Regions from separate parts of the Homo sapiens genome. Here regions 2 and 3 are each linked to region 1. The links come from fine-mapping of genetic effects on gene expression. A gene starts in region 1. Each other region holds a variant in brackets. All regions are shown on one strand. Distances are between the middles of the regions.

Evidence for each region.
Region 2: its variant is fine-mapped to the expression of KLF11 in sun-exposed skin (GTEx, PIP above 0.99).
Region 3: its variant is fine-mapped to the expression of KLF11 in whole blood (TOPMed, PIP above 0.99).

Annotation. Positions count from the first base shown.
Region 1 is chr2:10,038,466-10,048,197 of GRCh38, forward strand. It overlaps KLF11 (KLF transcription factor 11), which reads left to right and starts at 5,085. Exons shown (of 4, transcript NM_003597.5): 1 at 5,085-5,293; 2 at 7,685-7,954; 3 at 9,185-9,732. The coding sequence starts at 5,252. KLF11-DT (KLF11 divergent transcript) reads right to left here and starts at 4,936. Exons shown (of 3, transcript NR_135558.1): 1 at 4,845-4,936; 2 at 4,168-4,539; 3 at 3,088-3,186. LOC112268412 (a long non-coding RNA gene) reads left to right here. Exons shown (of 2, transcript XR_002959369.2): 2 at 1-139. RefSeq lists a promoter at 4,343-5,242, silencers at 4,929-5,158, 5,449-5,498, 5,619-5,668, 5,709-5,778 and an enhancer at 7,002-7,741.
Region 2 is chr2:10,016,145-10,026,280 of GRCh38, forward strand. No RefSeq gene overlaps it. Among named protein-coding and RNA genes, the nearest start is that of KLF11-DT, 22 kb to the right of the region's middle. The variant G/A (reference allele first, on the strand shown) is at 5,766.
Region 3 is chr2:10,070,578-10,080,590 of GRCh38, forward strand. CYS1 (cystin 1) reads right to left here and starts at 9,834. Exons shown (of 3, transcript NM_001037160.3): 1 at 9,329-9,834. The coding sequence starts at 9,646. RefSeq lists an enhancer at 713-1,214 and silencers at 8,969-9,308, 9,379-9,618, 9,679-9,738, 9,909-10,013. The variant C/A (reference allele first, on the strand shown) is at 5,845.

The DNA.
Region 1 (9,732 bases):
AGTGGCTTCACCTCTCGTCCCTCAGTGACTTCATCTATAAATGGGGCTGAAATCAGGGAATCAAAAGGCATGAAGAGCTAGCCCCTAGCATGACACTTGGCCTACTTTTGGTATTTAATAAACGTCTTCTGACCTGGTCCTCCTTCGTACCTCAACCACATCAGACACAGCGTCATGATGATTTTTCCCCTGAGCAAAGTGGCTTTGTGTGAAGTTGCTAGGCCTGAGTTTCCCCATCTAAAATACGCAGGTTGACCTGGATGATCTGTGCCTCAGCTACACCTACAGACCTCTCTGCTCACCATCATGAGTGCCCCTAGCAAAGGGAGACAGGGGCCCTGGGGTGTTGGGAGGAATGGACACTCAATTTCCAGTCAGGCATTGAACAGGTCAGTGGATTAGTGGGTCTGTGATTCATTCATCCATCCATTTTGTCAACCATTTGTTAGATCATTTGTCAACCAGCCAGCCAGCCCAGTGGCTGGTCAGCTCACAGCATATTCTGGTCCTTGTACTGCTTCCAGCCCAGTAAACTCAACCAAAGAGAAAGAGAACAGAAGAATGAGAATAAACAAACTCCAACTGCCCACAACAACACACTGAGTGAAAGAAGCCAGACCCCAAACTGAACATACTGTATGATTTTCTTTGTATTATAAAAGTGTCACACACACACAAAAAGTGTCAGTACATCCAAAACCAACCGAAAGTGTCAGAAGCCATGATAAGGATTATCCTATGCAGGGGATCAGGGAAACGGTAAGTAGTGACTGGACGGCAGCTCATGGGGCTTTTGGGATTCTGGTAATATTCTGTTTCTAAATCTGGGTGCTGGTGACACAGTGTTTGCCTAGCGAAAATTCATTGAATTGTACATTTAAGTTTTTACACTTTCCTGTATCTACGCTATGCTATAGTTCAATAAAAATTTACCCAAAAAAATAATAAAAGAAAGAAAAGAAAAGCAAGAAAAAGCAAGGAAATGCACAGAGCAGTTAACTCAGCAATTCCAGTTCTAAGAGCTGCTTATCCTGTAGTTATCCTTCCAGGTGGGCAAATGATGGAGGGGCATGATGTTCCTGGAAAACTGGAAACCTAAAAGTCTTGGTTATTCAACCAGAATGTTAAATAAACAACACATCCATATGATGGAATATTACTTAACCATTACAAAGTATGATCGTTATGTACCAATTGCAATAAGCCCTTAGACTGAAAAGTCAGTAAGTGAGCCCAGGAGGTATACAGCACTACCCTCTGTAGCAGCAAGCGTGCATAGCCACAGGCTCTCTCTGGAACGACACAGGAGAAAGTGGTGGCATTCTGGCCTGCAGGCTCACGCTCTCCCCTTAGGGGATGTTATCTGTGGCCACATCCAGTCTGCCTGCCAGACCATGCTCTTCCCGAGGGTCTACGGAGCCTGGTGCCAGTAGTCTTAGTTCAGTCTCCAAGTGAATGATTCGCAATAGTCTGTAGCTTACAAATTGCCATCCCTCTGACTGCGGGCAGGGCCAGATTCAGGGGTTTGGCGACGACCACAGACTGTCTGTCCATCTGGAAGATGGGCTAGATGTGCGCAGAACAGGGGCTCATGGCTGAAGAGGGCACAGTTCCCACATGCGCCTGCTGTCCAAGGAGCAGAAACAGACCCTGGGGCAAGAGAAGCCAGAGTGCCAGTTCAGGGAGAGCTGCTGCCGCCTTCTGTCCTGCAGGAAAGAAGACTTGGCAAGGTCACACCGGCAAAACAAGGATTTGTATGCAGGTCTGACTCCAAAGCCCGGGCATGCTGCCTTCTGCAGAGGCCAATCAGGGAGGGCTTCACTGGGGAGTCATATGCAGTCTTTTTTTCTTTTTTTTTTTCTTTTTTGAGACGGAGTTTCACTCTTGTAGCCCAGGCTGGAGTGCAATGGCATGACCTCGGCTCACTGCAACCTCTGCTTCCTGGGTTCAAGCGATTCTCCTGCCTCAGCCTCCCGAGTAGCTAGGATTACTGGCTGATTTTTTGTATTTTTAGTAGAGACGGGGTTTCACCATGCTGGCCAGGCTGGCCTCAAACTCCTGACCTCAGGTGATCTGTCTGCCTCGGCCTCTTGAAGTGCTGGGATTACAGGCGTGAGCCACCGCGCCCGGCGGTCTCATGCAGTTTTGCAAAGTCAAAGCAGACGAGGGTTGGCATGTTCCACGCAGAAGGAATGCTGTCTAGAAACAGAAGAGAGTGGCGTGACCTTGAGAGTACAGGGTTCTGTATTGGGTCAGTGGGGGCAGGAAGGCAGCAGGGAAAGCAATTTGGGAAACTGGTCAGAAATGATGCAGGAAGTGCTGGCTGGAGCCTGGCTACAAAGACTCATGGGTTCCTGGCCATGGAGCCTGAAGTCAGTCCTATAACTGTTTGGATTCCAACTGACGGCTTGAATACAGGTTCAGCTCCACCTCTGCTTCCAGAAGATCATTCTGGCAGTGAGGTGAGGGCAGATTGTAGGGCGTCTGGCTGGAGGGAGGGAGACCTGTTGGGAGGCAGTGGCAACAATTCAGGTGAGCAGGTGGTGGCCAGGACAAGGGCTGGCGTGGGTGACATAAGAGTTTGAGAGGAACTGAGAAGGAAGAAGGGCATGTAATTGGCGGAAGACAGCAACTGTGCGAAAGGGAGGAGGTAAAGGTGACGCTCAGGTTTCTAGATCAAGGAACAGGGTCTCCAGTTGTACCCTTCACGGAGGTGAGAAATCCAGATTTGGCTGGAATCCGAGTTCAGTTTTTTGTTTGTTTTTTTGAGACTGAGTCTCTGACGCCCAGGCTGGAGTGCAGTGGTGCGATCTCGGCTCACTGCAATCTCTGCCTCCTGGGTTCAAGCGATTCTCCTGCCTTAGTCTCCTGAGTAGCTGGGATTACAGGCGCCTGCCACCGTGCCAGGCTAATTTTTGTATTTTTAGAAGAGACGGGGTTTCATCATGTTGGCCGGGCTGGTCTTCAACTCCTGACCTCAGGTGATCCGCCCGCCTCGGCCTCCCAAAGTGCTGGGATTACAGGCGTGAGCCACCGCGCCCGGCCCTGAGTTCAGTTTTTTTAAGGACACAATTAGAGGTGCTCACGGGATGTTCAAGCAGGGAGGCTGGTGGATACCTTCGATTCGCTCGTTCACCTACGTGGACTTATTAAACAGCCAGGCTCCCTGGCCTTGGGAGAGTCCTTCTGGTGGGGAGACAGATGATAAATAACTGAAGTAATGGAAAAGGGGCAGTTCAAGAAAAGTGTTGTGGAGGAAGAAAACAAGAAAGCCCGCCAGAAGGGGACTGGAGGTCGGCCCCGAGGGTGTGTCCGCTAGAGGGGGCCTCTCCAGGTGGACTGCGGGTGAGAGTAAAGGGGGCATGTGGGGGAAAAGCATTCTAGGGAACAGCAAGTGCGAGGACCTGGAGACGGCAGAGGGGCTGGTGGGACAGGCGCCCAAGAGGAGGCCCAGGCTGTCCCTCCGGGGCGTGGGGAGAGGCATGGGGCTGGGTCCCTGCAGGAGCTCACAAGCCACAGTGGGGAGCAGAAGCGTTACGCTGAGTACAGTGGGAGCCACTGAAAGGGTTAAAGACCCCTGGGGGTGCTGAGTGGGAAGAGGCTCTGGGAGCTGGAGTGGACGCAGGGAGACCAGTTATAAGGCGAATGCAGGAGTCCAGGCAAAAGAGAATATTCCAGTGTGTATCTTAAGACTTAACTTTTTACACACAGAACACCCTGCGCCCCTCTCAGAGCCTCCGGGGTCTTCATGCGAGCAGTTTATCACGGTTCTTTCGTCTTAAACCCTCTTACTATTTCAGCAAACACCCTCTCCTCAGCCTGGTCAACCCCTCTGCCCAACCCGAGTGGGCCCCGAAGGAACAAGTGGGGACCAGAGTCCTGCTCATGTGAGTGGTGGGGCCCAGCCCGTTCCCCTAAGACCAGAATTCTCTCGCTCAGAGCAAAGCCCCGGGGTGCCGGGATTCTCTCTCTGCTCCCGCTCCCTGGATGGAGCTTTTAAAAAAGGAGGATTCCTCACTGCGGCCTCTGCCCCTTGCACTGAGCGCCAACCCGCATCACAGCTCAGCAAAGGCGCGCGCAGTGAACAGACGGAGGAGGGGTGGCTCCTCGCTGAGCTGAAGGCTGCGGCGACGAAAATAAACAGCATGGTTCCTGCTCTCCACGAACCTGGCGCTGCAGACGTGGGCAAACCACACCAAGAGACGCGAGCAACCGAAATATAGGGAGAAAAAAAAAGGTGCCCTGGACAGCGGGCTAGATGTCTCCTGCAGGCTCGAGGACTTCCCGGAGGGGGCGGCGTTTTCTCGGGGCCTGGGAAGAATGGGCGGGTTTCAGCGGGCGCCTTCTGGGTGACTGCCCGTTTCGGCTTCCCCTGACCCCGTAACAGAGCGGAAGAGGCCCAGAGACGCCAGAGGAGGGGCGTCAGCGGGACACTCAGGCCAATAAGCTCTGACTCCCGCTGTCTGCAAAAATGACCGGATGCAGGAATGTCACCTAGAACCGGCCAGCTTTCCGACCTCTCCGGTCAAGGACGCATTCCTAAGAGACGAAGGGAGAATGACAGAAGTTAAAAACAACCAAACAAAAGCCAGGTTGAGGCCTCTAGGTGGGTCTCCGCTACCGATGGATTCAGCCGGTGGGGCTGCAGGAGGTTCCTATAAGCGTGGTCCCCTCTCCCCGCACCGAGTCCGGCCCCGGCCCTGGGATTTCCCCAGCCGCCGCCCCGCCCCCTCCGCCCCGCCGCCCCCGCCGCCCCGCCGCCCCCTCCGCCCCCGCCGCCCCCTCCGCCCCCGCCGCCCCCTCCGCCCCGCTTGCCCCTGGCGCCGCTGCGACCTTTCCCTTACTTTCCAGGGCCTCAGGCCCCGCCCCTCGCTCCGACCAAAACACGTGCCGCGTCCCGCCCTGCCCGATCACGCCGCGGCCAGGCTCCGATCACGCGGCCCCCCGCGGCGCTCATTGGCCGGCCGGGCACGAATTGGCTGGTGGTGGCCGGCCCCGCCCCGGCAGGGGCGCGGTGTATTTTGGTTCGCCTCCGCGCCCCGCCCCGCCAGCCGCTCCCTCCGCGGCCGCCCCGCCCCTCCCGCGCCGCGAGGGCCGCGCCGGGGCAGAGCCGCGCGGGCGGGCGAGGCGCGTGCCGGCCGCAGGAGCTCCGGGTTGCCGCCGCCGCCGCCGCCCGCAGCCCACGTGCGGCCGCTGCTGCGCCCGAGCTCACGCCCCGCGGCCGCTTTGTTGCTCCCGGCCGGCCTGCACGATGCACACGCCGGACTTCGCAGGCCCAGACGACGCGCGCGCAGTGAGTGGTGGGGCTGCCGCGGCGGGACTACTCGTCTGAGCGAGGGGCGAGGCGGGGGAAGTGGTGCGGCACTCGCGCGCCTGTAAATGCGGGAGGTGGGGCGTGCAGGGCTTCGCTGCGGCCGCGCCGGTAGGGGCCTGGGCGGGCTCCGGAGCCGGGCGGGGCGGCGGCCGCGACGGGCGCGCCCGGGTCGGCGGGGGCGAGGAGGGGGCGTGTTCCCCGCGCAGCTTTGTCTTGCGCTTCCTGGGCGGCCCCGCCCCGCTGGCCCCGCGGCTATTTCCAGCCATGACGTCACCCCGGTCCTGTGAGCCGGACGGCCGTTGGGCGGGGGAGCGGCTGGCGGGAACGCGGCACGCGGCCTTGGGGGCGGGGCAAGAGCTGCTGGCGGGAACGCGGCACGGTTTTGGGGGCGGGGCACGCGGCCGTCGGGCGGGTTAAGAGCGGCTAGCGGTAGTGCCGCTCGGGCCTGGGGGCGGGCAAGGTCTAGGGGCCGGGGCAACGACGGGAGGCGGGAGCGCCGCACTGCCTTGGAGGCGGGGCAACGCTTGGAGGCGGGAACGCGGCACGCGAGCGTTGGGGGCCCTAAGCGTCGCGACCTGGGGGCTTCGGGGAGGTAGCCGTGGACGTGGGCAGAGCGCGGGCCTCGTGGTGTGCGGGCACTGTGGGCCGGGCGAGCCCCTTCCCGCCCGTGTGGTGAGTCGGCCTCGGCGCCCGGTTCTGTGACATCACAGGGGGTTTAGTGGCGCAGCCTGCGGGACAGAGGCCGGGGATTTGAGGTGGCCTCGTCTTGTTTGATCTCGGGGAACCTCGGCAGACGGAAAGCTTTGATGCTTTGGTGCATGGCAGATAGAGAGGAAACGTGTATCTTCGTACATTTAAAGTTTCCTTTCCTTTTTTTTTTTTTTGATAGGGAGTCTCGCTCTATCGCCCAGGCCGGAGTGCAGTGGGCGCGCGATCTCGGCCCACTGTAACCTCCCTGGGAGGGAGGGGTATTACTCTTCTCAGAGTAATATCACCCTCTCGCCCCCGGCTTAGTTTTCTTTTGGAAGAGATCAGCTCATTCCAGCCTCTTCCCTCCTCCCCTCCAGATTAAAGAGACGGTGAGGGTCTGGTGCGGTGGCTCACGTCTGTAATCCCAGCACTCTGGGAGACCGAGGTGGGCGGATCACCTGAGGCCGGGCTTTCGAGACCAGCTTGACCAACATGGGGAAAACCGCTCTCTACTAAAAATACAAAAATCAGCTGAGCATGGTGGTGGGCGCCTGTAATCCCAGCTACTGGGGAGGCTGAGGCAGGAGAGTCGCTTGAACCTGGGAGGCAGAAGTTGTGGTGAGCCGAGATGGTGCCACTGCACTCCAGCCTGGGCAACAGAGCAAGACTCTGTCTCAAAAAAACAAGGCCGGGCGCCTGTAATCCCAGCACTTGGGGAGGTCAAGGCGGGTGGATCGCCTGAGGTCAGGAGTTGGAGACCAGCCTGGCCAACATGGTGAAACCCCGTCTCTACTAAAAATACGAAATTTTCTGGGCGTGGTGGCGGACGCCTCCCAGCTACTCTGGAGGCTGAGGCAGGAGAATCGCTTGAACCCGGGAGGTCAGTTCAAGGCCAGCTTGACCAACATAGCAAAACTCTCTTTCTACTAAAAATACAAAAATTACCCAAGTGTGGTGGCGGGCACTGCAGTGAGCCGAGATTGTGCCACTGCACTCCAGCCTGGGCAACTGAGACTCCATCTCAAAAAGAAAAAAAAAACTGCAAAGAGATCCTCTCCGGGTTCGCGGCAGGTTGGCTTCTTGTCACCACCTGCTAGCCTTGGGACAGTAACAGATGACTTCCACTCCCGAATCTGTGGAGGGAACTGGTGGAATCGCCATGGGCCCTACCTGCGTGGAGTGCTGGAAGCCTAGGCGGAAGGCCCCAGAGTCCCTGAGAGCATCTGTAGGGACACTGCTTTGGCGGCTTTGCCGCCTCAGAGAGCCATGGTCAGGGCGCCGCGGCCACTGGCAGACCGACTAGATGGCCTCAGTGTTGGCTCCTCCTCCCTGGGCAGCTGCTCCTCCTCCCAGCCACTTTTTGGCTTGAACCTCAGGAGTTAATTTTATTAATCATTTACCCAAGAAAAATATGAACTTAGTAGCCCTTTTTAAGAGTCAGGATTTTTGGTGGCAACGCTTGCCAGCTTAGTTCTGTCTGTGAAATGTTGGCTTAAAAGCCGAATTGTCATGAGCATTCCTTGAATGTCTTTTACTACACCTCGGTGTTTGTTGCTATAGACTATTGCATGTGCATTACATGCCTACTGTAGGCTTCTGATATGCATATCCACATGCCCATCATGGGTGGCCTCTGTATTTCCCCTGCACTGAGAAGCCGTTGTGTTGTGTCGCCTTTAGGTTGACATCATGGACATATGTGAGTCCATCCTGGAGAGGAAGCGGCATGACAGCGAAAGGTCTACTTGCAGCATCTTGGAGCAGACAGACATGGAAGCTGTCGAGGCTCTTGTTTGTATGAGCTCCTGGGGTCAAAGATCCCAGAAAGGTGACCTGTTGCGGATAAGACCCCTCACGCCTGTCTCTGACTCTGGGGATGTCACCACCACTGTGCATATGGATGCAGCCACACCTGAACTACCAAAAGACTTCCATTCTTTATCGACTCTGGTAAGAGGAGGTGGGAGGGAGGAGCGTTTTTGTGAAATGACTAGAGTAGCTGAACTCAGTGTGTTGAAGAACTTGTGAGAAGATTCCCTGGGATGCTGGCAAATAAGTTGCGTATCCTCTCTGTGTGGGTCTGAAGGAGTAGAAACTCTTCCTTTGGCCAGGCATGGTGGCTCAAGCCTGTAATCCCAGCACTTTGGGAGGGCCAGGCAGGCAGATCACAAGGTCAGGAGTTCGAGACCAGCCAGACCAACATGGTGAAACCTCATCTCTACTAAAAGTACAAAATTTATCCGGGTGTGGTGGCGGGCGCCTGTAGTCCCAGCTATTCAGGAGTCTGAGGTAGGAGAATCGCTTGAACCCGGGAGGCGGAGGTTGCAGTGAGCCGAGATCGTGCCACTGCACTCCAGCCTGGGCAACAGAGCGCGAGACCCCATCTCAAAAAAAAATAAAAGAACAAAAAAAGAAACTTTTCTTTCATTTCTGAAAAATGTGCTCTTTCTATGGATGGATCATACCTTGCTAGCTACGTGGTTAATGTCCGTGGGATGAAACCTACAGATTAATGTGAGAAAGTGAAATTTACTTCCCCAGGGGAATCTCGGGGTGGAGCTTAGGTTCTCCAGCCTAGTGTCAGAATATATCGGTAGCAGCTGGAGAAAGCATGTACTTTGACATCAGATTGCCTTCGTTGGGTGGCACCTCTGCCCTCCCGTGGCAGCCGACTCCTTAATGTGAGTTCTGTGAGTTGGGTGCAGTAAGTCACTCTTGCTTTTTGTTTTTTTAATTTGCTACATCTGTGAAAGTACTTGGAAAAATTGCATCTCAGCTTGGAGAAGCTGAGAACTGTAGGTTGCTAACAGAAGTGGAAATTGTGATTGTCCTGGGCTGGAAGCTTGCTCTGAAAGAAGAGTGTAGAAAGCAGATTTGGAGAGGGATAGGAAGGGCCTGTGGGTTGTCGGGAGGGTTGCAGAAGTGGTGGGCCTGGCGGCCAGGAGCTCCTCTCAGAGTTCCCTGCACTGGGCTCTTGTGTAGGTTTGGGAGAGGTAAACACGTTGGGAATAAGCTGAGAAAGCAGAGTGCCTCATGCAGCCTTGAAACCCACTGGGATGTTGAAAACAGGGTTAACTGAGTGTCTAGATGATTCTGTGTAAAGGTATTGGGAGCATTGTGATGAATTAAATCCCTTTTAAAATTTAAAGCAACCTTTTAACATGGTACTTTTTTTTTTAGTGCATAACTCCTCCTCAGAGCCCTGATCTCGTGGAGCCATCGACAAGGACACCTGTTTCTCCCCAAGTAACAGATTCCAAAGCATGTACAGCCACGGATGTTCTCCAGTCCTCTGCCGTAGTGGCCAGAGCTCTGAGCGGGGGCGCGGAGAGGGGCTTGCTGGGTTTGGAGCCAGTGCCCAGCTCTCCCTGCAGGGCCAAGGGGACTAGCGTGATCCGACACACTGGGGAGAGCCCTGCTGCCTGCTTTCCCACCATCCAGACTCCAGATTGCCGGCTTTCTGACAGCAGAGAAGGAGAAGAGCAGCTTCTGGGACACTTTGAAACTTTGCAGGACACACACCTCACGGACAGTTTACTCAGCACTAACTTGGTGTCCTGTCAGCCCTGCTTGCACAAGTCTGGTGGCCTGCTGCTCACTGACAAAGGCCAGCAGGCAGGGTGGCCTGGTGCAGTTCAGACTTGCTCACCAAAGAATTATGAAAATGACCTGCCCAGGAAAACCACCCCTCTGATTTCTGTCTCTGTCCCTGCTCCCCCTGTCCTTTG
Region 2 (10,136 bases), 22 kb before region 1:
CGAGTCAGGTGGGCAGACGTGCGTATGGGCAGTCAGGTGGACAGGCGTGTGTATGGGTGAGTCAGGTGGACCACTGTGTGTACGGGCGAGTCAGGTGGACCGGCGTGCATATGGGCAGGTCAGGTGGGTAGGCGTGTGTATGGATGTGCATATGGGCGGGTCAGGTGGACAGGTGTGTATATGGGTGTACATGTGTGCACAGGTGCTACTTTACTCTGTGTTCAACACGTGTTCGTGGACGTGCTCCAGGCCCAAGGCGAAGGAATAGGATGTAGCAGGGGCAGGGTCTCCGCCCCATACTCAGAGTCCTTGGGCTCCGGGAAGACACAACCGATAAGTGGTTACGGGGATGCCTGGGAGCTACGGGCACACACAGACCCTCCTGGGCCCAGCATAAGGGCCAGGGAAGACTTCCTGGAGTCCAAGTGGAAGCTGCAGGGTGAGTAGGAGGAGGGAGGGTGGGTGTCAATGTTCTAGGAGTCAGGGGCGCACAGAGTCCAGAGCAGGCACTCCAAGCATGGGATGGCTACTCTGGGGATCGCTCGAGCCGCTTGAGCATAGAGCTTATGGAGATGAGGTGGGAGGAGTGAAACCAACTTTAAATTCCCACAGCTCTGCTGGGACTGCTGGGTCCGGCCATAAGACGGTGACAGATAGCAGACTTACCTTTCCCCCATAAACAACTAGAAAACTAGACAAATTATATGAAGCAACTGTTTTTAAGCATAGGTGCCATGGCAGGGCTGTGACCCTAGAGAAGGACACACATGAGGGAGTTCCAGCTTCACCCTGGCTCTCTGCCCGGAGGTGTTTGGGGCATTTTCTGAACACAGCACAGGGAAGTAGAGCTCAGAGAGTGGTGATGGCATGGGCCGGAGCAGGCAGAGACTGGAGTTCAGGACCACCGAGGGGACTGGAACTTGTGGGGTTCCAGAGAGGAGCGGGTTGAGCAGGGAAGGAGCTTCAGACGTTTGCAGAGGAGCTCTCTTGAGTCTTTGAGTGAATACTAAACTGCACGTGCACAGGATGAGACGGCAAAGTCTGGCAGAGGAGAGCTGCTGGGAGCTGGGAGCAGAAGGGGGTGCCAGAGGATGCACGGGCACAGAGACCTTGGAGTTCTGGGCAGCCAGAGTGAAGAGACCACACCGAATATGCCAGACATTCAGCCAAGACCTCAGAAAAACCACCCTTTTTTAAAAAAGTTAGATTTATTCAGGTATCATTTACATACAGTGAAATTCTCCATTTTTAGGTGTACAACTCTATGACACATGCATACAGTCATGTAATCACCACCACAATCAAGATAGAAAACATTTCTACTGCCCAATGTTCTCTGTGCCCTTTGGTCATCCTTTCCTCCCTCCACTCCAGCCCCTGGTAACCACTGCCCTGATCTCTGTCCTTTTGAAAAGCACATGCCTCAGGTGTACTACACTAACCCTGGGGTAACGGCTGCTCTAGACCTGTCCCAACGAGCCCACAAACAAGCCTTGAGGAGCAAAACATCTACCAATAATTTAACTCATTGCCAAAACAAAATTCACTAATCTTTGAAAGAAAACAACAAAATTCAGATTCCCAACAATGTTGTATCATAATGTCCAGCATCCAATCAAAAATTATTAGACATGTAATAAAGCAAGAAAATTTGAGTCGTAACTGGAGAAAAACTAGCCCATAAGAAACCCTGTTGAAGCCGGGCATGGTGGTTCACCCTTGTAATCCCAGCACTTTGGGAGACCGAGGTGGGTGGATCACCTGATGTTAGGAGTTCAAGAACAGCCTGGCCAACATGGTAATACCCCATCTCTACTAAAAATACAAAAATCACCCGGGCATGGTGGTGTGTGCCTATAATCCCAGCTACTCGGGAGGCTGAGGCACGAGAATCGTTTGAACCAGGGAGGCGGAGGTTGCAGTGAGCTGAGATTGCGCCACTGCACTCCAGCCTGGGTGACAGAGTGACTCTCCTTCTCAAAAAAAGAAGCCCTGTTGAATTCATGGGACAAAGACAAGGTGTCTTTTGTCATTGAGTATTTTCCACTGATAGATGGTATAGCTACCACGAAAAAATATTAACATTAAAAGGAGTCTTCAAAAGTAAAAGAGAACCACGGGTATAGGAGCCAGCCAGAACCCAAGTGCACATCTAGATGGCCAATAGGTGCACAGTGTGGGCAGGCCTGGAGTTAAACACTAGGACCCAAACATGTGCACAGCCATATCACTAAGGGGTTCAGCTGGGTGAAGACACAGACATATGAGCACAGCACAGAGGGTAGATGCCACAAGAGAGGCACAAATGTCCCAGGCATCAAAGAGTGACAGATCACTTCTGCCTAGAGGAACTGTAAAAGACTTCATGAAGGAAAAATTTTTTTGAGACAGTCTCACTCTGTCACTCAGGCTGGAGTGCAGTGGTGTGATCTTGGCTCACTGCAACCTCCACCTCCCGGGTTCAAGCAAGTCTCCTGCCTTAGCCTCCCAAGTAGTTGGGACTAAAGACACATGCCATCACACCTGACTAATTTTTGTATTTTTGGTAGAGACAGGGTTTTACCATGTTGGCCAGGCTGGTCTCAAACTCCTGACCTCAGATGATCTGCCCGCCTCAACCTCCCAAAGTGCTGGGATTACAGGCATGAGCCACTGTGCCTGGCCAGCAAATTTCTTTGCACTGGGCTTTTAAAGATGATTGAGAAACAAAATAATTTTAAAATCACCTCTAAAGTCATTTATTACCCAAATGTGATCGCTGTTGGTATTCTGGTAAATTCCTTCTCTCTGAATTATCTTATTTTTTCCCAAGTGGAGCTCCATCTCCTCAATTCTGTTTTGCATTTTTCAGTTAATGTTATTTCAAAAACCATTTTATGAAAATTCTTTGTAGCAGCTATTTTTAACAGCTGTGAAATATTAACTGTCTGTGACATAATCCAATTAACTGATTCTCTGTTGTTGGGCATTTAGGTTATTTTCAAGTTCTAACTAATCCTGCAATAAGCATCTTGTTCTCCCTTGTTCTGGTTACTCTCTTAAGTTAGATTCCCAGAAATGGGATAATTGTTTCCGAAGATATTTGGGAACATCTGGGAAGTTCCTGATCTGTATTGCCAAATGACTTTTCTAGAAGGTTGTACAAATTTACATTCCCGCTACACGTACTCTCTTATGTTGTAATACATGTTTACATGCCTTTTCCCCCACAAATTATGCCCTATCCACCTTCCTGTCCCCGGTGCCTGCACAGGCAGCTGCCCAGCAGCGTCCCTTGCATCACACATGCCCATACTTGCACCATACGTGACCGTACTTTCACAGAGGAGAAGGAATATCCAGGGTCAGGGGGAACATCCCTGACAGACACTCCTGGAACCAAGACGTGGACAAGTGTGGATGGACACTTGGGTCTCTGAACTCTTTCTAGAACACCTGGCATGGAGATGAGATGGCCATCAGAGACCTGTCAGTTCTGTTTTCTCGCTTGGCGGCAGGGAAGCTGAGATCTAGGTGGGGCAAGTGGGTTCCACACGGCACAGTTCGTCCATGTCAGTGCAGTGGCTGCTTCTCGGGGTACGGCCAAGCCGGGGTCTTGCAGCCTCAGCTCCCAGCAGGACCCGCCCAGCCAGGGTCCTCAACCCTAGGCTGACATCTTGGCCTCACTGGCGTCACAGCTCAGCCCTCACCCTGCGACTCTGTGCACGTGGGGAGTGGGGAGATAAGAGCTAGAGGCAGACCTCCTAAGAGGAAGGAAAACGATGTGGACTTGGGGGAGGAAGGATCTGCCTTCCCTTTCTTCAGCGAGAGCTTCCTCTTCTCATAATACAGGGAGGACCTCAAGATGGCTGTCTCCCCCTTTAGAGATGCTGTGTCCCAGCAAAGGGGCACCTAGAACAGGAATTCTCAACCTCCCAGGACAACGGGTGGCCGCTGAGAACCCGGGAGACCTGGGGCAAGCGTCTCAGGCTTTCCTCAGCTGCTCCACCTGGAAACCGGGACGGGCAGGACCGCCTCTCGAGGCTGCTGTGAGCGTCCAGTTAGACCACGTGGGTGGGCGAGGGGCTTGTGCCTTGCCCCAAGGGGAAGCTCAACACACACCTTTATATAGGACACATTCAAGGAGGCCAAGTTCACCAGGCCACACTGCGGGGCCTATTTTTTGGGGGGGCGGGGGTGTTGGGGGACAGGGTCTCACTCTGTCACTCAAGCTGGAGTGCAGCGGTGCAATCATAGCTCACTACAGCCCCAACCTCCTGGGCTCAAGCAATCCTCCCACCTCCTGAGTAGCTGGGACTGCAGGCATGCCCCACCATGCTTGGCTAATTTTTTAATTTTTTGTAGAGACAGGCTGTCATCGCTATGTTGCCAGGCTGGTCTCAAACTCCTGGCCTCGAGTGGTCCTCCAACCTTGGCCTCCTTAAATCCTGGGATTCCAGGGATGAGCCAGCCCACCCAGCTGGAAGACTGCTGCCTTGATGGGCCCCAGTGAATCCCCTGCTATTGATGATCTTCTGTAGTTCCCTCCCACACCAGATCTGGACAGGCCTTGAGACCCATTTGGCGGATAGAATGTGGGGGAGGCCTGGCAGCTTCCTGGTCTCTGGGAAGCTGCCACGCTGTGGAGAGCTCAGGCCATCCTACTGGAGGGAAAAGCCATGCACGCAGCTGCAAGAGTGACCTTCCTCAATACCACATGCAGCAGCAGAACCACCCCAGTGACACGCACACTCGTGAGGAGGAATCAATCACCGTCATCTTAAGCCACTAAGTTTTTTTTTTTTTGAGACAGAGTCTCGCTCTGTCACCCAGGCTGGAGTGCAGTGGCGCGATCTCGGCTCACTGCAACCTCCGCCTCCTGGGTTCAAACCATTCTTCTGCCTCAGCCTCCCAGGTAGCTGGGATTACAGGCACCCACCACCACAAGCCTGGCTAATTTTTGTATTTTTGGTAGAGATGGAGTTTCACCATGTTGGCCAGGCTAGTCTCGAACTCCTGACCTCAGGCCATCCACCCGCCTCAGCTTCCCAAAGTGCTGGGATTATAGGCGTGAGCCACTGCACCCGGCTAAGCCACTAAGTTTTGAGGTGGGCTGTTACTTAGTAATGGATACCTGAACCCGGCTGGGTGCGGTGGCTCACACCTGTAATCCCAGCACTTTGGGAGGCCAAGGCAGGTGGATCATGAGGTCAGAAGATCAAGACCATCCTGGCTAACCCCGTCTCTACTAAAAAGACAGAAAATTAGCTGGGCGTGGTGGCGGACGCCTGTAGTCCCAGCTACTTGTGAGGCTGAGGCAGGAAAATGGTGTGAACCCAGGAGGCAGAGCTTGTAGTGAGCCGAGATCGTGCCACTGCAGTCCAGCCTGGGGACAGAGCGAGACTCTGTCTCAAAAAAAAAAAAAAAAAATAGATACCTGAACCTCCCTCCTCCCCAACCTCCCTCCTCCCCATCCCAGCTTTATCCTCTGGGGCTTCTCCTGTGGTGTGCAGGTAAATGTTTAACAAGCAGCTCTCGCAGGGGATTGAGGGGAGCTCATGTGAAGTGTTCGTCAACATCTGTGGTGTAAATATTCTCATCATGGCTGATTTCAAGCTACCAACATGACATGGCTGAACACGAGATTGAGAAGAAATGTGCACCATCTGTCCAGGAGCGGGCGAGCTGGATCCAGCACACCTGGATTCTCCTCCCCTGACACGTGACAACCCTGCAGAGACTTGAGATCAGCCGCTCAGATTAGGTGATCAGAAGCATTTTGTCAC[G/A]GAGACACGGAGTTCTGGGCCGGCTCTTATCTTCAGGGCATCTGGTAGGGTGGAAAGCACTTCAAGTCATGCGCCAAGCCCACGTCCTATTCCCTGGGCCCATTCCCTTCCGTTGAAGTGCTGGAGGCAGAGCTCGCAGCTGAAGACCTACAGGCGGCTCTCCCTCGTGTCTGGGCATGAGCGGTCTGTGGAGGCAGCAGCCAGGCTGTGTCCAGGTAGCCCTGACGGCCACTGCACAAGAGCAGTGTCGGGTAGAGTCCGAGCACCCATCAGCTCAGCCCCAGGCTCCATCAGAGGCGGTGGAACGGGCCCTGAGGATGCCTCAGTCCTGGGCCTTAGTGGGAGGCCTTCCAGGTGAAGCCCTGGGGACCAGGTAGCCCTGCTCAGCAAGCAGCCCTGGACCCTACCTCAGCAGCCCCGGACCCCACCTCGGCCGCCGCAGGAAGCCAAGGGGATGAGGGACCAACTCGGGAAATGGTGGGTGAGGCTGGTGGCTCCTGGAAACGCCGGTCACCAGGGCGGCAGCACCGGTCCTCACCCCTCCCTGCCAGGACTTCAGCAGCTCTCAGCCCCTAAGCATGATAGTTTCTTGGGTCAACCAAATAGTCATCTAGGGGTTACTGTGAAGGTGTTCTGTAAGTATGTCACATCTGCAGTCAGCTGACTGGAGTGAAAGGCCATTACTCTCAATCATGTGGCGGGGGTAGGGGTGGGAAGCCTTGTGCAACCAGTGAAATGCCTTGAGAGCAGAGCTGGGGTTTCCCTGAGGACAGAGAGATTTTACCTGTGGACTATAGCATCGCCTACTGCCCGAGAGGCCCAGGTGCCGCCTGCCCTATGGATTTCCACCTTGCTCAGCCAGCCCCCACCTTGTCTGAGCCAATTTTTCACAATAAATCTCTCCCTCCCTCCCTTCCTTTCTCTGTCTCATCCCCTCCATGTATATGTAATATCTCTTATGTGTCTCATAGAGAGATTTATTGCAAGGAATTGGCTATACAACACACGTACATGCATATCCACGTGTAAACATGTGCACACACACATACACACACACCACACACACCACACCCCTATCCTGCAGGTTCCTTTCTCTGCTGGGACCCTGCTTGCTTCACCAGGGGTGCTGAGCCCCTGTGTCACCAGTGGAGGTCTCAGCAGCACAAGTCCCCAGGCACAGCCCCTCAGCGCCCTGCCCTCAGCCGTGGCTCCAGGGGTGAAGTAGGACCTCAGGGTGTAAAGGCCAGTGCCACGGTTCTTATGGGGTGTGCTGCGGGAACCCTTATCTTCATGATCATGTGAACTGTGCCCCCAGTCCTTTCTGTTTCCTTGAGGGAGGCCTTGGCTTCTGGAGCCCAGAGTCAGAAAGTGCCCGGACCTCCTGTGCAGGCTGCCCCACCTGGCTCTCCCTGGCTGTGGGTCCAGGACCTCCATCCTGAGTTGGGGCAGGGAGGCTTGAGACTTGGGGAGGAGAGGGGAGATGCTGGGAGCTGGAAGAGCGTGTGCCCCCAAAACCAGCTCCTGGGGCCTGTGGGCTGTGGCCCGGGAGGAAGGGCAGAAGGCTCGGGAAGGCTGGAGTGGTCCTGCAGCAGAGTTATGGGGACACCAACTGGCTGGTTTTGGGGCAGATAGATGGGACATAGGGGTGAAGTGGCAGCAAGGGGTACCTCTTTCCATCCTAACATCTCGGCGGATGCTGAGAGGGTGTGGCTTTGAATTTCAAGAGCCCTGATGGTGAGACCCCAGCAAAGGTCTCATTGGGATCGGGGTTCTAAGGCTTAGACACTCGGGCTTCTACAGACTTTGTGACCTTGGTTGCCTGGTCCCAGGGTCCCCCACCGTGAAAGGGAGGACTCTTCCAGGCCCGGCTCTGTCCCTGGGTATCGAGACACAGGGTCTGGGTGAGGACCTCAGAGCCAGGCACTCAGTGTAGTCACAGTGTGGGGCTGCTGCTGCTGTTGCTCTATTCTTAAACGTATATTTTATTGTAGTTCTGTTCCCAGGCTGCTGTTGGGCAGTGAACAAACGGCACTGGATTCAGAGTCGGACAAACCTGGGTTCAAGTCCAATCTGCCTCTCAAGCTGTGTAGCCTTTAGCAAGTCACTTCTTCCCCTTGGGCCTCAGTTTCCTCATTTGCCATCTCACCCTTCACAGCACTGATGTTTGGATTAATGCGATGAGGCAGGTGAAAGCACTGTAAATGCCACCCAGGCACGGAGCTTTCATGGGACAGTTGAAACGCAGGTGAAATGAAAGTCAGTGTCCTGTTGTCCTCCGACTTTACATTATTAAAGAGAATTGGGCTGGATGCAGTGGCTCACAGCTATAATCCTAGCACTTTGGGAGGCCGAGGTGGGCAGATCACTTGAGGTCAGGAGTTCGAGACCAGTCTGGCCAATGTGGTGAAACCCTGTCTCTACTACAAATAAAAAATTAGTCGGACGTGATGGTGCATGGCTGTAATCTCAGCTATTCAGAGGCTGAGGCAGGAGAATCCCTTGAACCCGGGAGGCGGAGGTTGCAGTGAGCTGAGAATGAGCCACTGCACTCTAGACTGGGTGACAGAGCGAGACTCCGTCTCGAAAAAAACAAAAAAAAAAAAAGAGAATTGGTATGTGGGTGCACGCACGTGCGCTTGAGTGCACGCATAAACATGACAGGGGTGTCATGGGAACACATATGGGCTGGCTTTGACGTTTGCCATTAAAAACATGATCCCGATGAACAACCCAACAAAAACAAATTGGCAAAAGAATCCATCAGACACTTCACAGAGGAAGATACTGCATACAGAAGGCCAAAACAGCATGCGAAAATCATCGCACTTCATTAGTCATCAGGCAAATACAAATGAAACCCACAATCATAAGCCACTTCGGCCCCCCTAGGACAGTGAAAATGACACCCTGGTGCAGCAACGTCATGTGCTGGGGAGGAGTGGGGCAGCCGAGGCTCTTGCACGCCGCCATCGGGAGTGCAAGATGGTGGAGCTGCTGTGAAACAACACTGTGGTGGCTTCTTCTAAAATTAAGAATGGCCCAGCAATTCCGCGCCTACGTTTTACCCAAGAGAAATGAAAGCACATGTCCACACAAAAACTTGAATGTGAATCTTCATGGCAGCTTTATTCCTAAACATCAAAAACTGGAAGCAACCCAAGTGTGCACAAACAGATGAATGGATAAACAAACGCAGCATCAGGCAGGTAACAATGAGGGTGGCTCATGGGCCCATGGGAGTGTTAGAGGAGCCCCTGCTTACCAGGCCCCTGGTTTAACAAAACAGCCCTAGAGTGAATGCACTGGGCGCAGTGGGTGACGCCTGTAACCCCAGCACATTGGGAGGCCAAGGCAGGAGGATTGCTTGAGCCCAGGAGTTTGAGACCAGCCCTGACAACATAGTGAGACCCCATCTCTATGCACACACAAAAATTAGCCGGGCATGGTGGCATGCACCTGTAGTCCCAGCTACTTGAGAGGCTGAGGTGGGAGGATCGCTTGAGCCTGGACGTTGTATGCCACTGCAATCAAGCCTGGGTGACAGAGCAAGACCCTGATTAAAAGAAAACCCAAAAAACAAAAAAACAACTGTGGTACATCCCTACAGTACTATTCAGCAAAACCACATAAACATAAAACAAGAAAGACAGAATTACTGGTACATCCATCAACATGGATTCATCTCAAAAACATGATGCTGGGCAACGCCGCCCCCCCCCCCCCCAGAAAAAGAATAAACAGACACAGAAGAGTACAAATTGTATAATTCCATTTCTATGAGCTTCTATAATGACAAAAGAGCAGATTTGTGGTTGTCAGTAATTCCAGGGGAGAATTCACTGCAAAGGGGCACAAGAAACAGGATGAAAATGTTCTGGGCCACGTCGGGCGCAGTGGCTCACGCCTGTAATCCCAGCACTTTGGGAGGCCGAGCGGGTGGATCACAAGGTCAGGAGATCGAATCAATCCTGGCTAACACGGTGAAACCCCGTCTCTACTAAAAATACAAAAACAAAATTAGTCAGGCATGGTGGTGGGCGCCTGTAGTCCCAGCTACTCGGGAGGCTGAGGCAGGAGAATGGCGTGAACCCAGGAGGCGGAGCTTGCAGTGAGCCGAGATTGCACTACTGCACTCCAGCCTGGGCGACAGAGCAAGACCCCGTCTCAAAAAAAAAAAAAGAAAAAGGAAAGTGTTCTGGGCCATGAATATGGTGGCAGTGTCACAGGTGTGGACAGCTGTCAACACTCATTGAATTGTCCACTCTAATTGAATGTAGCCTCTTGAGCATAAGTTGTATCTTCGTAAAGCTGGTTTTCTAAGCATGATAGCTGAAAGGATGGTGCCAGCCTCCACTCCCTTTCCCAGTGGGA
Region 3 (10,013 bases), 32 kb after region 1:
TCAAGTGATCCACTCGCTTCAGCCTCCCAAAGTGCTGGGATTACAGGTGTGAGCCACTGCGCCTGGCATATTTATTTATTTATTCGAGACAGGGTCTTGTTCTGTTGCCCAGGCTGGAGTGCGGTGGCCTGATCATAGCTCGCTGCAGCCTCAACTCCTGGGCTCAAGCAACGGTCCCATCTCAGCCTCCTGAGTAACTGAAACTACAGGCACATGCCACCACACAAGGCTAATTCTTGTACTTTTTGTAGAGACGAAGTCTCCCTATGTTGCCCAGGCTGGTCTTGTACTCCTGAGCTCAAGCGATCCCCCCACCTCGGCCTCCTAAAAAGTGCTGGGATTACAGGCATGGTGAGCCACCACGCCCAGCCTGAGAACCCTTTTTGTTTGTTTGTTTGTTTTGTTTTGAGACGGAGTCTCGCTCTGTCATCCAGGCTGGAGTGCAGTGGCGTGATTCGGCTCACTGCAACCTCTGCCTCCCAGGTTCAAGCGATTCTCCTGCCTCAGCCTCCCGAGTAGCTGGGATTACAGGTGCCCGCCACCACGCCCAACTAATTTTTTGTATTTTTAGTAGATACGGGGTTTCACTATGTTGGCCACGCTAGTCTCGAACTTTTGACCTCAGGCCGTCCACCGGCCTCGGCCTCCCAAAGTGCGGGGATTACAGGCGTGAGCCACCGTGCCCGGCTCTGAGAACCTCTTAAAGCTAAGGCAGGACATCCAGCCAAGCCCAGGGCCTGTCAGGGTGGACACTGAGCTGCCTGCTGCTGCCCTTCTGAAAGGGCAGCGGGACCCTTGCGGCAGGGGGCTTGGAATGCCTGGCGTAGGGACCTGACTTTGCACTGCTCACTAACATGAAGACACTGCAGCTTCAGGGCAGCCTTAAGGATGGAATGCCATCCAGTGCGTGAACGGCCCCCCAGAGCGGACGCAGGAGGAAGCAATTTCCCCAATGGCTCAGCCTTGCTGTTTCTGTTGTTTTCACCTGTGTTTTTCTCTGTGCCTGAGATTTTATTGCGTGGCCCTTTATCTGGCCAATTTGTTTAAGCCTTGAACTTACTTTCTCAGATGGAAAAAGCATGAGACTCCCAGAACACACAAGCTTGCTGAAGCAGCCAGGAGGAGCTGGTATGAAAAGCAAAGACACAGCAGCCCCAGATGGTGGCTCCAGCCTCCTGCAGACAGGGGCTCCTCCAGGGGGCTGCCTCCACCTGCAGATCACTGAGACACCTGGACGGACGTGGGGAACCGGCAGCACCTGGGCTGGGGCCCTGGGAACTGAGCTGAGTTCAGGACCAGTGTGTGTGTGCGCCCTGTTTGTATGTGTATGTTTGTGTGCGTGCGAGGGGTGTGTGTCATCCCTTGAGATTCTAGGGGGGCTTTGGAAAGACCAAACCACAGCTAAACAAGAAGCAGAAAACATATGAGAATGAAGCGAATAAGATCATCTCTTAAAGTTTTTGACTCTTAAAACTAAAGTTTTCGTGAAAATTAAAGTTTCAAAGGTTACTTTTTTTTTTTTTGAGACAGAGTTTCGCTCTTGTCGCCCAGGCTGGAGTGCAATGGTGGGATCTCAGCTCACTGCAACCTCTGCTCCTGGGTTCAAGTGATTCCCCTGCCTCAGCCTCCTGAGTAGCTGGGATTACAGGCATCCGCCACCACACCTGGCTAATTTTTGTATTTTTAGTAGAGCTGGGGTTTCACCATGTTGGCCAGGTTGGTCTCGAACTCCTGACCTCAGGTGATCCGCCTGCCTCGGCCTCCCAAAGTGCTGGGATTATAGGCGTGAGCCACCGTGCCCGTGCCCGGCCCAAAGGTTACTTTTTAGAAAATCCACTGCATATTTACCCAAAATAAAATATACAGTGGATTTCTTCTCCTGAAAGAGTTCTTCCATTAACTCTTAATTTTTAGCAGCTTAATATGTATGTATGTACATACACCAGTTATATGTGTAATTGGCAGAACAATTCCATTCCTTTTATTCCATAGTATGGATACACTTCCCCCTTCCTCTTTCAGAATTATCCTTCTTTGAAGCCCAGGTTTGGTTTGTTTGGCTTTTCGGTTTTCTTAAGGAAACTTGAACATGTACAGTAGAGAAACTCCTACAACGGCTCTCCTGGACCTGACCCAGCTTTCACAATTTTGCTAGTCTCGTTCTGTTGCTCACCACCAGAGGGCACTGTTCTCCCCACACAGAGGCCAAGATCCCAGTGCCCTGGGGAAGCTCCACTGTAGGGCTTTGCAGGCAGCAGAAGCTGAGCAGTGCAGGTGGAGGAGCGGTGGGGGAGCGGTGCAGGCAGGCTGTGAGTCGGAGAGTGGTGCGGGTGGGCTCTGCGTAGGGGGGGATGGCGCAGGTGGGGTCTGCGCGGGGGAGCAGTGCAGATGTGTGGGAGCAGAGCAGATGTGTGGGAGCAGTGCAGATGTGTGGGAGCAGAGCAGATGTGTGGGAGCAGAGCAGATGTGTGGGAGCAGTGCAGGTGGGCTCTGCATGGGGGGGCGGTGCAGGCTGGCTGTGTGGGAGTGGTGCAGATGGGCTCTGGGGGGCAGCGGTGCAGGTGGGCTCTGCGATGAGACCTGTCTTGCATGGCTAACATGACAAGGACGTGACAAGGGGCTCTGGGAACCGCCCCCCCCCCCCCCCCGGCTGTGGGCTGCCAGTCCAGGGCCCGTCTCCACTGGGAAGGCCTTGCCTTGAAGGAGGTGTTTCCAAAGCCACAGGGAAAAAGGCAAGGGAGACCCAGAGAGGCTGTCACTGGACTCAGGGTCTGAGAGACTTGTCCGTGCTAACAGGGTGTGGATTGCGGTTGGCCTGACCTGCAAACAGGCACCCTCCCACTCCTTGCTGGGCCCCAAAGTCCTCCGATGTAAATAAGAAGGTGGGACTGAACCATCTGTGAGGTCCCTTAAGCTCAAGTCATCTCGGATTTCAGCAATAGAAAGAAATGACAGCTGTCTGGCCATATACTATCAAGAAACAGAGCTTGGTGGGAATCGGAATGGGTGGCCTTGGGCAGGGGGCTGCTTTCCCTGCTGGGTAATGGGCTCACGGCATTTAGGGGCAGAAGGGCCTGTGTTGTGCACAAACCACTGCTCTGACCCTCCTTCCCAGAGTCTAGTTAGGGTCTGCCCCAGCCCTATGGGACTCAAAGCTCCAAGGTTAAGAGCTCTTGGTCAGCATCTCTCGAAGAGTGCATGAGCCGACATCCTCCTTTCCACGGCATTTCTACACCCTGCCGTGCCCAGTACTCAGCAGCAGCCACCACAGCCTCTCAGCAGGGCAGGAAATGTGAGGCTGTACCCCTGACCGTGATGCAACCAGGCTTCTAATCACCTACAGCAGCCAGCAGCCAGGGACCATGAAGGGAGAGAGCCTCTGAGGCTGCCCGCTCCTCCCCCGGGTCGAGGCACTGGGCTTCTAACATCTTTTAATCCTACTCTTTTTATAGAACTCCAGAGAGGACAATTCTTCCTTCAGTTTTTGATGTTCATGTTCCAGGCTTGGCATCCTTCCCCACCCATCCACACGCTCTCCCTCAGCAACTGTACTCTGGTATGGCATCAGCCACTATCCAAATGCTGATGTCCACGAAATGACAGCTCCAGCTCCAACCACTTTTCGCAGTTGACAGGAATTTCGGACAGCCCACGGAAATTATCCACCTAGGACTCAAAACTCAACTTGTACAAAACTAGGCCCATCCTGTTAATAGCATTCTGAATCTTCTCAACTACACAAGCAGGGAATCTTGGAGTCTTTCTAGAAACTCACTTTCCCTTGCTTGTCAAACTCAGTGGCTCACCTCACCTCCTCCTCCACCTCTCACCTGGATTCCTCCCTTACCTGGGCTCCTGCCCCCATGCAGTCTCCCCCAGTACAACCTCCCCCGCCACTGTGGATCCTTCTATTACACAGGCTGGGAAGACACACAAGAAACTGAGAAGCTGCTTGTCTCTGGAGAGGGGAGCTGGGGAAAGAGTTGGGAGGAAGGGAAATTTTCTTTGCAATGCATGTTTTCAATGTCCCCTCATGTGCCTGTGTATTACCTCTTCTAATTTTTAAAATAAACATTTAAAAATAATGAAACACAGAAAACTTCGCCTAGCTCCCCACTGCCTACAGGACAGTTCAACCTCTTAGCTTGGAATCCTGTGAAAATGTGACCCAAACCCGTCTCATTGGTTTCTGCTCTCCGACATCACCTGGCTGAATGGCACATAAACTCCAGGCTGTTCAAAAGCACTTCTGGGCCAGGTGCGGTCGCTCATGCCTATAATCCCAGCACTTTGGGAGGCTGAGGCGGATGGATCACTTGAGGTCAGAAGTTTGAGACCAGCCTGGCCAACATGGCGAAACCCCGTCTCTACTAAAAATACAAAAATTACCTGGGCATGGTGGCACATGCCTGTAGTCCCAGCTACTCAGGAGGCTGAGACAGGAGAATTGCTGGAACCCGGGAGGCGGAGGCTGCAGTGAGCCGAGAATGCGCCACTGCACTCCAGCCTGGGCAAGATAGAGTGAGACTCCATCTCAAAAAAAAAAAAAAATCGCTTCTGGACCTCTGGAGTTTTCTACACATTGTTTCCTCTTTATGGAAAGCTCCACCCTTTGTCAACCGCTGGAACACATTAGTGATCCTTTAGAACCAACTCAGACACCAGATCCACTGGAAGACTTCTGCCTCGGGTGGGATTCCCACGCCTCCACGTGTGCAGACGCACTGGAGCATGCCTTTACAACATGCTTCCACGGGAACTTGCAAACGTGCATTTACGCACCCCTTCCCAACACGGTTATGAGCTTTTTGGGGGTCCGCACCATCCTTTCTTCTTGTCCCCTGGATCAATTGAAATATCACTCATTGCCATTTAAATTTGTGTTCTTTGCTACAGACTTGAACGCAGGCAGATAGTCACCGTCTTCAGGACAGTGACTTTGTTTTGCTGCAAGTCCATTAAGTTACCCATCACCTTGACGTCCTTCTGTGGAGGTGCTGTCCCGCCAGGCACTCACTGTGACTGCTCTCTTTACACCGTGAGTTCCATAGCAGCTGCATGCCAAGATTACTGTAAAGTCCTGGCTGGGGTAACAGGCAAGAAAGAATTATCCGGATGCTCCATGGCTACAGCAAATGGAACCTTTCCAAAAATGGTGGATGACAGAGTCCCTCAGCCTAAGGAGAGGACACTATTGCCCGAGACTCTCTTGCAAAACAGAAAAATTCTCAGATAACGTACTTCCCTTGACCTTGAGTGACCCAGGTTTATAGGCAGAGGGAGGAAAACAATCTGAATTACCACCTGCTAATAAAAATACTGAATCTGGCTAGGCACAGTGACTTACACCTGTAATCCCAGCACTTTGGGAGGCCAAGGCAGGGGGACCACCTGAGGTCAGGAGTTCAAGAACAGCCTGACTAATATAGTGAAACCCCATCTCTACTAAAAATACAAAAAAATTAGCCAGGCGTGGTGGCATGCTCCTATAGTCCCAGCTACTCGGGATGCTGAGACAGGAGAATTGCTTGAATCCTGGAGGCAGAGGTTGCAGTGAGCCGATGCACTCCAGCCTGGGCGACAGACCAAGATTCCATCTCAAAAATAAAATAAAAATTAAAATTAAAATACTGAATCTATGTCTACTTGATTAAACCAAAATTTCTTCTCCAAGGGTTCCTTCAAATTTCACGAGGGCATCTAATGCTCAAAACCTCCTCTTATCCAGCCCATTCTGGGACTAAGATTTTCTGGTGAATTCCAGGTCCAGCAGCACCATCCCTACCGCCATCCACTACTGCTGCGCTGTAAAAAGAGCCTTCCTACAAGAGCTGACTGCACCGC[C/A]CTCCTTGTGTCCTATTCTCCATGAACTCCAGCCCAAGGCGCCTCCCACCACTCTCTGACCCATCTCTCACCAAGGACCTTGAGACCTCCCGAGTGGCTCAATTCAACCACCAGCTCTCAGGCTTCCCGCATATATCCCACCAAGCAGCACTTCCAGCAGCTGAGCACGCCCTCCGTCCTAAGCACCTTCCTCCCTTGGCTTCCGGATGTTCTCTTGGTTTTCTCCCCTTTACTGGCTGTTCTTTAGGATGCCTCTATCTCCTCAACCTTTGAACAGCGTGCTCAACCCCTGGCCTCGTCCCACGTTAGTTCACATACACGAAGCTCCCAGGACAGAGCCCGGTGCCCATCCATGCTTCCTAAGCACACGCTGGCAGCATCGTCACTGGTGATCCCATCTAATCTCATGGGTTTAAATCCTCCCATGTTCTAATGGCTTCTAAACGAACTCCAAACCTGACCTCTCCCCTGAATGCCAAACTCTTACAAAGATCTACTCACTTGACATTTCTGTTTGGATGTCTGACAGGCATCTCAAATTTAACATACTGAAAACCAACTTCCTGGTTAATGACACCCCAAACCTGCCCCTTCCACATTTTCTGTGTCTGTTCACGGCAGCTACATCCCTCCAGCTGCTCTGGCCAAGAACTCCTGGTTCACCTTTGATTCCTTTCTTTCTCACACATCCCAGTCACCCCACTAGTGAGTCCATAAGCCAACCGCCCCTCACCACCGCCCGCCAACCTGGTCCAAATGACCCCACATCTCACTTGGATGACTGCAGAAGCTCCCCTCCCCCAGCACAACCCCAGCTTCTGTGCCTGCCACCTCACTCCCCCTTTCTTCACTCCAGCGAGACTCTGTCTCAAAAAACAAAAACAAAAACAAAACATAATATTCAGAATGATGATTCAGGGATAAACAGACCATCTCTAAGACATTCCCAGTCAACAGTGGTCAAAATTTTTAAATGTGAGTGCTTAAAAGAATAACTTTCACTTGAGTTTGATGTTCTTTTATGAAGAATATGTCTCTCCTCCAAAATGCTAGACAGTTATGAAGCTATTAAAGGTTTCTTTTCCTCCTTTCTTCCTAAAGAAACTAAAAGTAGTGTTATTGGCCGGGTGCAGTGGCTCACACCTGTAATCCCAGCACTTTGGGAAGTCAAGGCGGGTGAATCACCTGAGGTCAGGAGTTCAAGACCAGCCTGGCCAACATGGTGAAACCCTGTTTCTGCTAAAAATACAAAAATTAGCTGGCCGTGGTGGCGCACATCTGTAGTATGCAGGCGTTATCTGAAAATAATGAATTGGACCCAAGGGCTCCCTTCCGCCTCGAATAATCTGTGATTCTAGGATTCATTTATTCAAGAAATATTTATGGTGCAGAAAATACATACAGTCGGCTGGGTGAGGTGGCTCATGCCTATAATCCCAGCACTTTCGGAGACCAAGGTGGGCGGGTCACCTGAGGTCAGGAGTTTGAAACCAGCCTGGCCATCATGGCAAAACCCCGTCTCTTCTAAAAATACAAAAATTGGGCGTGGTGGCAGGCACCTGTAATCCCAGATACTCAGAAGGCTGAGGCAAGAGAATCGCTTGAACCTGGGAGGCACAGGTTGCAGTGAGCCGGGATCACACCACTGGACTCTAGCCTGGGCAACAGAGTGAAACTCCGTTTCAAAAAAAAAAAAAAGAAAGAAAGAAAAAAGATACACACAGTTCACACCCAGAAGGGCAACTGCAGCTGGCTGACCTCCTCAACAATTCCTGAAACCATCTCCTCTGCAAGCCTCTCACCGCCACTGCCTTGGTTCAGGACTCGGCCACCTGGATCATTGCAGACTCCCCCACCCACTCACACAGGTGGTCATGTTATCCCTAGTCTGACTCTGTCCAGTTCATCCTCCCTACAGTTGTCGGTGTGACGTTCCTAAAACACAAACTGTCACAATCCTTACCTTTCAGATACCCAGAACTTTCATAGTAACCCAAACTCGCTAACATGGAATACCCTTGGCATGGCGCACTGCAGCCTGGCATACTCTCCTAAGACCTCTCTGACCCATGCCCTGGGCACCAGCTGCCCCAGCCACCAGTGACATTAGGCATGAGGTTCTCTCTGCACAGAACTTGCTGCCTGGATCACGTCCACAGACCCTTCCAGATTCAGGACAACTTCCAAATTCATCCCTTCGGGAATGCCTACCTGCCTCCCTTGGGATTAGCCGCTTTCTCCTGTGGCCTTTTGATACGGATCTCTCATCGCCCTGCTTTCTACTTTCCCCCATCGAGCTGCAGACTTCTTTAAGGCAAGGGCTATGCTGTGTGGCCTCATCCCTAGCACCCACAGCGGGACCGGTGCTCAAAGGATAGCTGGAAAATGACTTAAAGAGCGAGCAGTCACCATGATGAATAATATCAGCAAATCAGAGGGCACAACATTCACTCTTGCTATTTGCCTCTCATTTTCACCTCCGAGTTTCCAAAGCACTTGAAAATGAACACTAAAATTAACTGCCTCCTTGCTATGTGTGAATTCCTCCCAAATTTCTCAGCTATTTGTCCAGGCAGTGTTATATAACTGCAGGCTGATGTGGTATTAAAGGAATCTTGTTATATAATTCAGCCCTACTCACTGCAGCTCGCTTTTCCTCTTTAAAGACCGTAAGGGAGAGGAGCAGGGAACCAGGGCCAGAGGGAGAGAGCTCTGTGCACTGTCGCCTGGGGCTGTCCCTCTCCCCCACCCTCCCTGGGGCCTTTTCAGGATTCCTTGGTGCGGTAGCCACCCAGGAAGGCATCTTCCTCGGCTCCCAGCGGCTGCTAAGCAAAGCCTCCCGGGCCTCAGGGAGGAGGACGAGGCCCTTGGCATCCTCCCCGAGCCCGGGAGCGGATGTTAAAGATCTTGTTCATTCAGCTCTGCTGGAGCGAAGACGGTTGCCAAACCAGAGTGCTTGTTTTATTGTTTTTTTAGAACAGCAGGACTGTTATTACGAGTATTCAGGGAGAGAGAATAGGAAGCGCAAAAGAGATTCCGCAGCATCCTAAAAATATCAGTAACATGAGAATTGCCTGCCCAGCAAGGCAAGGATCTGGACCGGTGGGCGCGGCAGGGCGCTTCTGAGCCACCGTCTGGCTGCCGTGCCACCACCGCCGGCGCCCCGCTCCAGGGCGGCCCGGGAAGGCCAGGCGGGGCCGCGGGCCCGAGGGGAGCCGGGAGCCCGGCGCGCTCCGCCTAGGGGTGTCCTTCCTCGGCCGCTCCCAGCGCGATCGCCCCCACGCCTGGACACAGACCCGGAGACGGGGCAGAGAGGGAGGAAACCTGGGGGCCCAGGGGCGGGGAGGCCGGGGCAGCGGGGAGCACGCAAGTCGGAGGCTGGAAGGGGGCGCAGCGCGACCGGCGCCCAGGGCTGGGGCGGGGACGCGCGGCCGGTGAGTGGGGTCCCCGCCGTCCCCCGAGGCCCTGCGGCTCCCACACTCACCGCGCTCCCCGCGACCGCGGTGGGTCGGAGCCGGGCTGGGCGGCGCGGGGCGGGCTCCGGGGGGCCCCAGGCCGCCGACTCGGCCAGCAGCTCGTCCAGCAGGCGCAGCGTCTCGTCCCTGCCGTCGGGGGGCGCCACGGGGCTGGGGTCGCGGCCGGGCGCCTCCTCCGCGGCTGCCCCCGGGACCTCGGCCGCCGCCACCGGCACCCGCCGGCGGGTCCCGCCCTCCAGGGCTGCCGCTCCGGGCCCCGCGGGGAGGCTCTCGGGGCTGCGCCGCCGCCTCAGAGTCCGGCTGCTCCGGCTGCTGCCGCTGCCCATGGCGCGCCCGCCGCCTCCCGGACCGCCGAGGGGGCCCCCATGAGGGGGCGCGGCCGGGGGCGGGGACGCTAGGGGGTGCGGCCGGGGCGGGCTGCAGGGGGAGGCGCGGGGCGAGGTCCGGGAAGCGACCGCGGCCAGGGGCTAGGGTTCCCGGGCGGGGGTCGCGGCCGGAGGACGGGGGTGCGAGCCGGAGCCTGGGGAGGGGCGGGCGAGGCAGGGCTGCATAGGCGTCCCGAGGGGGCGCACACCGGCCCTAGGGAGGGGCGGGCCCGAGACCCCGGCGAGGAGCACCGGGTGCGGGCGCGGCCTCCCCTCCCGGGTCTCCCCCTACAGTCCCCCCACTCCCGCCCACGGGTCCCCTCGCTCC